Linked DNA regions of Homo sapiens. The protein of the gene in region 1 interacts with the protein of each later gene in a biochemical or structural test. Each region holds a gene or a part of one and is shown in the gene's direction. Other genes may lie near its edges.

What was found. The genes of interacting proteins can lie anywhere in the genome.
Region 2: the proteins of UBE2D1 (region 1) and UBE3A form a complex in vitro, tested with the Homo sapiens proteins (12 studies listed by BioGRID, with this or other methods).

What each region holds. Positions count from the first base shown.
Region 1 is NC_000010.11:58,366,006-58,371,248, forward strand, and holds the end of UBE2D1 (ubiquitin-conjugating enzyme E2 D1), read left to right. Parts: intron 1-1,917; coding exon 1,918-2,011; intron 2,012-2,714; coding exon 2,715-2,760; 3' UTR 2,761-4,743; downstream 4,744-5,243.
Region 2 is NC_000015.10:25,428,979-25,436,024, reverse strand, and holds part of UBE3A (ubiquitin-protein ligase E3A), read left to right. Parts: intron 1-7,046. UniProt on the Homo sapiens protein: E3 ubiquitin-protein ligase which accepts ubiquitin from an E2 ubiquitin-conjugating enzyme in the form of a thioester and transfers it to its substrates.

The sequences.
Region 1 (5,243 bases):
TACAGTATTCATATAGATTCTCATATTCTTTTAAGAATCTTTCACACAGTGTAACTGTCATGCATTAGATATATGAAAGATTCTGTGTTGAAGGGTTAATTCAAGTTCATACGCTGTTTCCTGGAATGGTGTCACAAAATGGATCTCACTTGGCATATAAACTGCCAAGTCCTTATACATATAAAAGAAATGGCAAACTGCCAGATATTGAGTACTTATATTCTGACATTGGTAGCCTTTTATAAAGAATCAGTAGTGTTAGATTCTGGAAACCATCCTGTGAGAAATGAAACAGCCTCAGTTTCCTTATAAGTAAAATGGGGATTCTTATAGTGTTACCATACAGGGTTGCTATGTACCTAGCACATAGTGGGCACTTACATGAATGTTAACTGTTACCCTTTTCCTTACCTTAAAGGATAGACATGGTTTGTGTGCATGATAGTGAAACTGGGGCAAATGGCTCCTGGCAGTAGGGGTGAGCAGAGGAGGAACTTCCTTCTTGCTTACTTTTTTATAAGATAGATCATACCTTGCTCATTTGTTTGTATATTTTTTACTTTGCTATATTTTTTTAAATTTTTAATTTGTTTATCTTAAAAGATTGTTTTTTAATTAAATATAGACAGAGTCTTGCTGTGTTGCCCAGGCTGGTCTCAAACTCCTGGCCTCAAGTGATCCTCCTGCCTTGGTCTCCCAAAGTGCTGGGATTATAGGTGTGAGCAACCTTGCCCAGCTTATTATTTTTATTTTTTTATTTTTTGAGATGCAGTTGCTGTGTTGCCCAGGCTGGTCTCGAACTCCTAAGCTCAAGGATTCTTCCACCTCAGCCTCCCAAGTAGCTGGCATTATAGGCACATACCACCATTGCCTGGAGCTTTTCCATATTTTAAATGTCTTCTTTTGCTTTTTATCATGAGGTTAGTCTGGAAGCATTCTGGGGCTGTAAGTTAGCCCTGAAAATCTGCCCTGTTGGTTTAATATACAAGGCTTTTAAGTTTCATTGGGCAGATAGAAGATAAGAAAGATGAATAAAATACTAATTTTTTCTTTAGTTCATAACACCCCCCCACCCTTTGCCTGTCATTGTAAGAGTCAACTCTGCTCTATAAATCCACCTTTGGACTTGAAAGAGTACGAAAATAGAAAGGAAACGCAGTGGGGTGGGTGCAAGTGGAAATGGGAGGTTGGTCCAGAGGTTCCATGAACCTCCTCAGAAGTGGTGGCATGCAATTGAAGCAGACAAATGAGGAACCAGAGTCCTTGTTCCCTCTTATTTCAGATACTTAGATCGTTAGTGTGTGTGTGTGTGTGTGTTAGTGTAGCTATTTGCATTAGAATTTTGACATACTGGAGTAACAACTACTTTTTCAATTTTCATTTCTTTTTTAAAATATGCAAGCTATATAAAGATAGCTGTTCACATTATTTTTAAATGCATGCAATACAAATAAACTACATTAAGTAAAGATTCATTGAAAAAAATTTTACAAATTTTTCTTCTTTGTAGACAGACTATAGCTCTAAGCCAAAGCAAAAGAGTGTATGAGCACAGTATCCAAAATGGTTTGGACTGTTAACTGTAATTTGATTGTTCTGTAGAGAACTCTCAAGTTTAAAGGTTGTTAATAGCTACTTTGGAGGGTCACATTTTTTTAAATAAATGGGAACTCGGAATTTAAAACTTCAAAAGCTAAAATAATTTTATATTTTATGCATCCTATGGTAATTTTATAACTTTAAAAATTAAAGATCAATTTGCTATCAACCAAAGTAGAATAAAATATAATTTGATGTGTTCATTTTATGTTTTTTTTATAAGTACAGTATCTATATTCACTAAAATTATTTTCACATATGTAATTTGTATGAAGTAGAAGGGTTATTGTCTAATGTGATGTTCTCTTTTAAATCTAGTTTTATTGTCCATATGTTCTCTACTTTGTGATCCTAATCCAGATGACCCCTTAGTACCAGATATTGCACAAATCTATAAATCAGACAAAGAAAAGTAAGTGTTTACTTATTTTAGTTTCTGTATGGATACATTCCTATATAGTATGCCAAAACACGAATATTATCAATATGTTTTAAGTCAATTTGATTATGGTTGTTATATGTATATTGTTTATCTTTTTCCAATGGAGTAAACCTTTCTTTGAGAACTCTGTTAGACCTTTTATGATAAATCTTGTTCCTTCCCACTTACTGTTCAATAGTATATACTCTGTATTTGAAAAATAGATGTATATATTCTAGGTGATAAATTAAAAATGAAAGAATTTAATCATTGGAAAGTATTAAATATATATTGCTTATCTTCTCCAAGGAAGAGGAGTTCTCTCGTACCCATCCAAACTGACCTAATTCTCAAGCTGCTTCATCTTGCTAGTACTGTAGGTTCATTTGCAATTTGTAGATAATGCTCCTTCAGGATTGGCTTTTGTAAATTTCTGTTAGAAGCTGGTTTCTGCATTTTGATTTTTGTGTATTTGGATACATTTTCATATAGGTTGCAGAGAAATCCATGAGTTAAAAAATTATTTTTCCTGTTTTATTTCTGCATGAACCTAAGTCACATTGACCCAGTAATTGATATATGTGTGATTATTGCAATTAAGTATAAGAAGGTAGAATATATAGTTTTATTAGACAGATGCTTCTGAAATATTAATTTTGTATGTTTTTACTATATCCTTTTTGTGTATCTACAGATACAACAGACATGCAAGAGAATGGACTCAGAAATATGCAATGTAAAAATCAAAAACATTTTCATATATACCAGAGTACTGTAAAATCTAGGTTTTTTTCAACATTAGCAGTAAATTGAGCACTGTTTACTGTTTCATTGTACCATGAAACCATTTGATTTTTACCCATTTTAAATGTGTTTCTGAAGCAAGACAAAACAAACTTCCAAAAATACCCTTAAGACTGTGATGAGAGCATTTATCATTTTGTATGCATTGAGAAAGACATTTATTATGGTTTTTAAGATACTTGGACATCTGCATCTTCAGCTTACAAGATCTACAATGCAGCTGAAAAGCAACCAAATTATTTTTTGCTGAAACTAGATGTTTTTACATGAGAAATACTGTATGTGTTGTCTAAGATGTCAGTTTTATAAATCTGTATTCAGATTTCATTCTTTGTTAGCTCACTTTATAATTTGTATTTTTTTACTGTATAGACTAAATATATTCTATTTACATGTATGTCAACTCATTACTTTTTTCCTGTGAACAGTATTGAAAAACCCCAACGGCTGATAATTAAGTGAATTAACTGTGTCTCCCTTGTCTTAGGATATTCTGTAGATTGATTGCAGATTTCTTAAATCTGAAATGATCTTTACACTGTAATTCTCAGCATACTGATTATGGAGAAACACTTGTTTTGATTTTGTTATACTTGACTTAACTTTATTGCAATGTGAATTAATTGCACTGCTAAGTAGGAAGATGTGTAACTTTTATTTGTTGCTATTCACATTTGAATTTTTTCCTGTATAGGCAATATTATATTGACACCTTTTACAGATCTTACTGTAGCTTTTTCCATATAAATAAAATGCTTTTTCTACTATTTGTCTTGATTACTTAAAAAAATAAAAATATAAGTAAGGATCAAAACTCTAAAATTTTGCATGAAAATTACATCCAAATTGTGAAAATCAGATCTATTTTGTTTGCCATTAGTCACCATTAGTTATATAAATTTTATTGTTTTAGGTTAGTATCTCTTTACTAAATTGTCAGTCTATAAGATAATATATGTTGATCCCTTGCTGTAGAGGAGAATTTAGAGTAATTTGGGGTTTGTCTTGGATTATATCTAAATGGATTATTTGTTAAAAGTACTGAAATGAGTATAAGGCAGTATCACCCATCCAAAAGAAAGGTCTTTATAGACCTGCACAGTCACTAGATTAATTCATTAAAATGCCCCCACCCTGATGTAATTGACATTACATTTCTTAACATTTTAAAATCTAGAATTTCTAAAATGGAATTTAATGCCATCACAATTTGAAAAACTTTTTTTTTTTTTTTACTATAGAAGTTACAAAGGAAGTTCTAAAATTATGCCTCCCTCTGTTTTTATAAGTTGCCATCGAAAAGTGATTTAAATAAGCAGGTTATCTTTATAGATTTTAAAGAAAACTAGAAAGTTTTAATGTTTTAACTTGGGGAAAAATACATCTCTTTAATGTTTAGCATGCTTGTCAACCTTGAGTGAGTGTCATTTTTAAGAACAGTTGTAGCCCTTCTGATTATTGCAGTAGCTGTAGAAGTATGTAAGAATATGTGATGGGTGTAGTCATTAGCAAAGCATTTAAATCACTTGAGTATTTTGTCATGGTTCATTATTATTAAAGCACAAAATAACCTATTGTTAGAAAATATGTGTTTTTATAAATGAATGTAAAATAATTAAATGAATTGTGAAATGGATGTTTAAGAAAATATAGGCTTAAAAAGTAAATCTATAAAATGATGTCTTAAAACAGCCATATCATGAAAAATTCTACTTAGCTATATTATTATAAGCTACATTTGCCCTGAATTTGAACACTCAACATCACTAGATTTAAATATTTAGTATATTTTGATAGTAAAGGGTTTTGTTTCTTGAATATCTTCACTTTAAACAAAAAAAAAAAACAACTTTCATTTGTGTGGCATTTATTTTTGGAAGTGTCTTCTTTTTTTTCTTTATTAAAGTTTTTGAAACTTGCCTAACTTGTTTGCCTTTGCTTACATCTGGATTGTACTGGACTTGAGGAGTAAGCAGAAGTTCTCATAATTAGCTAAAAACCTTGAGTTCCATAGTGGCGTCATGATCGGTCAGAACACCATTTTGGGTATATTATTTTTGCTTAACTCTAACAAGGAGAACATCAGTTACCTTTTAAAACTGTAGAATAAAAGTCAGGGCCTTTTGTGGATTAAGCATTAATTTAAGGACTTCCTTGGAGTGAGAGAAATAGGTAGTCTTTTGGGGATTTAGGATCCCACTTCTTGAAGTTGCATAGTTGAAAACCATGTTCAAATTGGATTCTGAACGCTTATAACTGCCATATACAGCAGTTACCCACATCAGTGACATGGGTTGTAAGGGGCAGCCTCACCACCATCCTCCAACTATCTCAAAAGCGTACAATTCCTGAAGTACAAGCTTTACATATATGCCTCCGTCAACCTTATTTATTAATTTTTGCATTATTTCCCTGTTTC
Region 2 (7,046 bases), on another chromosome or scaffold:
CTGTAAAATGGGTTGGTGAAACTTCCCCAGAGTTGTGAGGCTTAAAGTATGTAAAACGCCTAACACGTAGGCACTCAATAAGTATTACCTTAGAAATCTTCCTATCCAGTTTTTCTGAATGGTCTGGAAGCACCTTGTATGTAGTGGACTACAGCATGTTATCCTTTATGTTGTTTATTTCTTTTCTCATTAGCTATGAACTTTTTAAGGCCAGGAATTCCTAGTGTTTACCAGAGAATGTGTTACTAGATGTCTTAGTCTGTTCTGGCTGCTATTACAAAACACCACAGACAGCATGGCTTATAAACAACAGAAGTTTATTTCTCACGGTTCTGGGGGCTGAGAAGTCCAAGATCAAGGTACCAACAAATTTGACATCTTAGTGAGGGCCCTCTTCCCTTGTTCATAGATAGCTAGCTGTCTTTTCACCATTACCTCATGTAGTAGAAGAGTAGACGGGGCTCTATAGGGCCTCTTTTATAGAGGCATTAATTCCATTAATGATGGCAAAGCTTCCCAAAGGCCCCACCTCTTAATACTATCACCTTGGAGGTTAGGCTTTCAACATGAATTTTGGGGGACACATTCAGACCACAGCACTAGAGCAGGCATGAATTGGTTATTGGTAAATCAGTAAATGATCAACTAACATTTATTAGGTTCCTCCTGTGGCTTCTATGAGCTGAGCTAAGTACAGGACCCACAAAGACAAGAAAGATGTCTGTCTTTTTTGAATGCTTATAGTTGAGTGACTTTCTCACATTTGTGTGTGTGTGTGTGTGTGTGTGTGTGTAAAACCCTATCACATAATGGAACTTCATTTTCCCATGCCCTTCCAATCTAAGAGCAGTTCTATGGACTCAATACCTCCTACCCACCAGCTGCTACTGTAAAGATTTACTTTTTTACTCCTTTTAAAAAGTTCAACCCTCTGGCACATGCATTACTTCATTCCTTGGTCCCAGCCCACCACCCCAGTATCTGGCACGTAGTGTATTAGTATTTGTGTGTGTGTGTGTGTGTGTGTGTGTGTGTGTGTGTGTGTGTGTGTGTGTATGTATATAGAATTTAAAATTTTTACTCCGGCAGTTGTCTTCAAATACTCTAATTTTGGGGGGCATGATTATCATTCTGTCTTCTGGCAGTACATGGATAGATGCTACCTGAGTAGGATTGTCTATGAGGTCAGCTGCTCCAGTCATTTTATACAAGAGGAAATTGGAGTGCAAAGCTTTAAAATGATTTTCTTAAAGTCACCCAGGTGTCAGAACCAGAACCAGAGTCCATGTCTCTAGTTCAGGACTCTGCACACATTGGCACATGTTCTGTCCTACCTTTTGGGATGAATAGTTATACTTGCTTTGTGATTACTCACCCACCTTTTTGGAGACATATGAGTGTTTTGTACACTATTAATAGAAGGCAGCCTTCACAAAATGCCATCTGCAGATCTGTTATTTCTTCTAATAAAGGAAATGATGTAAAATTACCTTAAATAGAAATAGTGTTAATTCTTCTGGAGACATATTCCATAATCCAAACACGAAATGTTTGAAATACTTGAAGATGCCATATAAATAAGTCCTTTGTAAAAAGATAATATTAAAAATTTTTGTTTTATAGAGATGGGGGTCTCACTGTGTTGCCCAGGCTGGTCTTGAACTCCTCAGCTTTTACTTTAGCTTCCCAGTGTGTTGGGATTACAGGCATGAGCCACAATACCTGGCCAAGTCCTTTTTTTTAATCAAATGACTTATTAATACACAGTTTCTTTGCCAGCTTTTGTTTTCATTTGCTATCAAAAATGTTGCTTAGTAGTGCTTTGATCTGAGTTATCAATAACAGGTAAATGCCATTATGGATAATAATTCAAAAAGAAGCTTATTAATTATTAGGCCTATCTGAGAGTGAAGTAAAGTTAGCATTTTCTTTTTGTTTATTTTACTTATTGTTTATTTGTTTAGAGACAGGGTCTCGCTGTGTTGCCCAAGTTGGAGTGCAGTGGTGCTGTCATAACTCATTGCAGTCTCAGGCTGGAGTGATCCTCCCATCTCACCCTCCTGAGTAGGTGGGATTAGCATATGCCACCATGCCTGGCTAATTTTTTTATTTTTTAATTTTTTTGTGGAGATGGGGTCTTGCCGTGTTCAGGTTGGTTTCAAACTCCTGGTCTCAAGCGGCTTGGCCTCCCAAGGTGCTAGGATTACAGGTGTGAGCTACCATGCCCAGCTGAGCATTTTTAAAAAATACTGGTCTTTGTACATGAGTCGTTACTATTTGATTCTAAGCCTTATGACTGATATCCCTAAAAATTATTTATAAAATTTTAAGTGCATCAGAGTCATTGAAATGGAATGAGCACTGTCTTTTGGTCTTGAGGTTGTTTTAACTAGCTTCGTAATGGTCATGAGCAGGTTATTTAGCTTTTGAAGCCTTCGTTCCTTCTTTTGTCAAATGAAAGTGATAGTTGCTTTGTTTTAAAAGAGTATGCTTTTCAAACGTGATCATTCTTGAAAATGTAGATTAAGAGCTTTTTAGAGGCCAAGTGCCATGGCTCACGCCTGTCATCCCAGCACTTTGGGAAGCCGAGGCGGGCGGATCACGAGATCAGGAGATCGAGACCATCCTGGCCAACACGGTGAAACCTCATCTCTACTAAAATACAAAAAAAAAATTAGCCGGACGTGGTGGCGCATGCCTGTAGTCCCAACTACTCAGGAGGCTGAGGCAGGGGAAACGCTTGAACACGGGAGGCGGAGGTTGCAGTGAGCCAAGATCATGCTACTGCCTGGCGACAGAGTGAGACTGCCTCTCAAAGAAAAAAAAAAAAACTTTTTAGAAACGTTGTTTTGGGGAATTTTTAGTGTGTGAATTCATTTTAAATATGTGAACTCCATTTGACATGGACAATGGATCTTAATAGTTTGTGATACATTATTCAGTGTATTAATCAAAAGTCAAATCTCTTTTGTAATTTGCTGTACCAGACCTGTTGTGTTAATCTGATCAATGGCAAGTGAATCATAAGATTGACCTGAAAGGAAAAGATATTTTTAGGGGACATAGAATCATATTGGATAAGATTATTCCTATAGTTCATTTTCAGGAAATCTGAACAGGAATCTCGTGTAAGGAATCACATGTGAATTATAGAAGAGAGTCTGATGTAAGACTTTATTTATTAAGGTCTGCATCTGTGTTTCAAGTAAGAGCATAGAGGTAGTATATGAGCCCTGAACACTCATACAAGTAGGATAAAATTTTTCTTAAAACTGTTGGCTGGACAGTGTAGAGTCTAATGCTGTGACTCTTAACAGTTTTGTGTGTTCCAGAAGTTCATCTCCTCAGGATCAATTGAGGTTAGTCTAGCACAGACTTTAGTTATAGAAACCAAACATGAGAAAAATTTTTTGACCCATGTCTTCGTAGCATGCAGGCTTGGTAGCTCTTTCCTAGTTCTGGATGTGTGCCCGTTGTATATACTTTCAGCAATTCAGGATGTTCCTTTTCATATTTAAGACAAGCACTCTTGCATACAAATTACATAGCTGTGGGCTGAATGAAGATGCTACCATTGCTGTACTTCTACACAGGTTCTTTTCATGTAATGAAATCAGAAGGGATGGCTTTTCCATTTCAAGCTTCTGTTAATAAGTAGTCTTAGAATTGCCTTTGTGTACTGTAGCCAACACCCCAACTCATATATTTTTATAATCTTTGTGATGCAGAATAAATTCTGAAACTTTCCACCTCCTAATTAAATATAGAAATACTGAAAACAATAAAGCACCATGTATTCACTATGGACATATGTCACATTTTGTCACTTTCTTGCACTCTTGTAATCCCTCTCTAAAGCTCATGTTAAACTCATGTTCTTTATTTTCTTCTCAGATGATTCCTTTGGCACTGCATGTAACAGTACAGGAATTTCTTCCTTTCGTACTTCCAACAAATACTTTTTTGTCTCTTAACAGATGTGAACCATAATGCTGTTCTTTAGAAAGCAAAGGATGAAGTGCACAGCAGTGTTTTCTATATAAAGCTAATGGGTCATAAGGGGAAATATGGGTTATTTCCAGCTTGTTAATTGTCTTAATACATTTTTCCTAAGAATTCTATTGTGCCTCTGTGGTTATATGCACCAATATTGATAATCTTACAGCGTGCCATAAATAAGGATTTTTATATTATCTTTGCTAAATATTTTAAGTTTTTGTTTTGGGAATTGAAAAAATCTTTTGTGCATCTATGGTATGTGATACGTATACTAATGGATAAATCCTGTTTCACACAAAGATTAATTGGGTAACATTTTTCTTTCCTAGTTTTCTGAAGTCAGTGGTCATGTTGTGTGTTGGTGATTGAAAATATGCTGTTTAGGCTGGGCGCCTTGGCTCACTCCTGTAATCCCAGCACTTTGGGAGGCCGAGGCACACGGATCACCTGAGGTCAGGAGTTCGAGACCAGCCTGGCCAACATGGTGAAACCCTGTCTCTACTAAAAATACAAAAATTAGCTAGGCGTGGTGGCACACGTCTGTAATCCCAGTTACTTGGGAGGCTGAGGCACGAGAATCGCTTGAACCTGGGAGGCAGAGGTTGCAGTGAGCTGAGATCACACCATTGCACTCCAGCCTGGGCAAGCAAGATTTCATCTCAAAAAAGAAAAGAAAAGAAAAGAAAATATGCTGTTTAAGATCATTCAAATTCAGTTTCTAAGAAGTGTAAAGTTTTCCTAATTACTTAAGCTGCTTCATTCTCATTCCCTTTTGTAACACATTTTGCCATCTCTGTAACATGTTGAACATGTTTAAAGAACAGAGTGGGAGAATAGGAAGTTACGTGGATAAAGTTTGGTAATCAAGGTAGGAATACATCCTGCTTCACAGAATGGGAATATTTCTGAAAAGTTGACTGTAGTATTGAAGAACACTTAAGTGTAGTGTATTAGACGAACTGAGCTAATTTTGGTCTTTTATACACATAAATCAAGATTTCTGCATTTCAAATCATGCATATTTCTTTAAATTTATTGCTCAGTGTACTGTATTTCAAATATTGTAAAAATGAAAAGATCTTGTGGTCTTATTTAACTCAGTATGGGATAAGTCCTTCCCACCTTCCCATTCTTATTCCCTCTTTTAGGCTGAATGAAAGGCTGGGGGAGTGAATTTAAAAATAGATGGATCTCAGCTGGAGAATGGGTTGGTCACGTATCTCAACTGATATTAAATAATTTCTTAAATCCTGGATTGAAGATTATAAGAAAACAGTAAATGTTTGCTCTCAGTTCATTTCTTTGTTTTGTTTTTTCATGTACAGTTTTAGGCACTTGTAACTGCTGGATGCATGAACTACTTTCTAGTTCTTTCAGGCCTACTTTTAGATATCTGCTGTGGGGACAGTCCTCAACACTTAAAGTAATTTTAAATAGTGATAGGCAGAACTAGGGGTCAGTTTTACTGCCTATGCCTGTGCTGAATTTGACATGGCATTCCTAGGAGGGGAGGTGGAACGAGGGCGGTGCACACATTGTCCATATTGCTAGTCAGTGCCAGATTTTGAGAAACTGGGGCTAATCTCTCTCTTAAATGGTCAAGATCTAATTCCCCAAAGTGCTGTTTCAGATAACCTAGTATTTGTCCAAAATTGCCCTGCTACAATAGTATTTATCTTATATATATGTATTATATATATAATATATATATAATCTTATATATATGTATTATATATATTATATATATAATCTTATATATGTATTATATATATAATATATATATAATCTTATATATATGTATTATATATATAATATATATATAATCTTATATATATGTATTATATATATAATATATATATAATCTTATATATATGTATTATATATATAATATATATATAATCTTATATATATGTATTATATATATAATATATATATAATCTTATATATATGTATTATATATATATAATACATATAAATATATATATATATATATATATAGGTTTTTTTTTGTTTTTCCTCCTGAGATGTAGTCTCGCCCTGTTGCCCAGGCTGGTGTGCAATGGTGCAGTCTTAGCTCACTGCAGCCTCCGCCTCCTGGGTTCAAGTGATTCTCCTGCCTCAGCCTCCTGAGTAGCAGAGACTACAGGTGTGCACTACCACGCCCGGCTAATTTTTGTATTTTTAGTAGATACAGGGTTTCACCATGTTGGCCATGCTGGTTTCAAACTCCTAACCTCAGGTGATCTGCCTGCCTCAACCTCTGAAAGCACTGGGATTACAGGCATGAGCCACCACACCAATCCTATTACATTCTTAAAAAAATGTTTGTTTGTTTGTTTTTGTAGAGATGAAGTTTCACTATATTACCCAGCCTGGTCTTGACTCCTGGGCTCAAGTGATCCTCCTGCCTTGGCGTCCCAAAGTGCTGGGATTATAGACATGAGCCACTGCGTCCAGCCTGTATCATATTTTTATTCTGATATCTTTTGTAATTTTGTTTTTAGTGAAGTAGGGAGGTTTATATTAGATAATCTTCCAAGGTAATTATCAGCTTGGACATTATATGCTAATATGTCTTTTGTTTGTTTTTAAAATAAGTGTATATGTTTTAATTGTAAAATTTTTAAAACATCCAGAAAATGACATAGCAAGTGCCTATTTATCCACCACCTGGAAATATAAATTATGTCCATTTTTATCCCTTGGGGGAAAGGATGCAGTTATATAATCACTTTTAACAACCCCAACTGTTCAAGTCCTGTTACCCGTCTCTACACAAAGTAACAACTGTCTTGAGATTCTTAAGTAAATTTCACATCCTTGTTTTATACTTTTACTATACATGTGTACATGTATCTGTAAGTGATATGTGGTGTTGGTTTTTGTATTAAATTTTTACAGACATGTATAACGCTGTCTTTCAATAGCTTGATTTTTTTAAACTCAGTATCAAGTTTTTGAGGTGTATATGTTGATGCGTGTACATGTAGTTTATTCAGTTTCACTGCTGTATGGCACTTCATTTTATGCATAGATAAAATGTATGT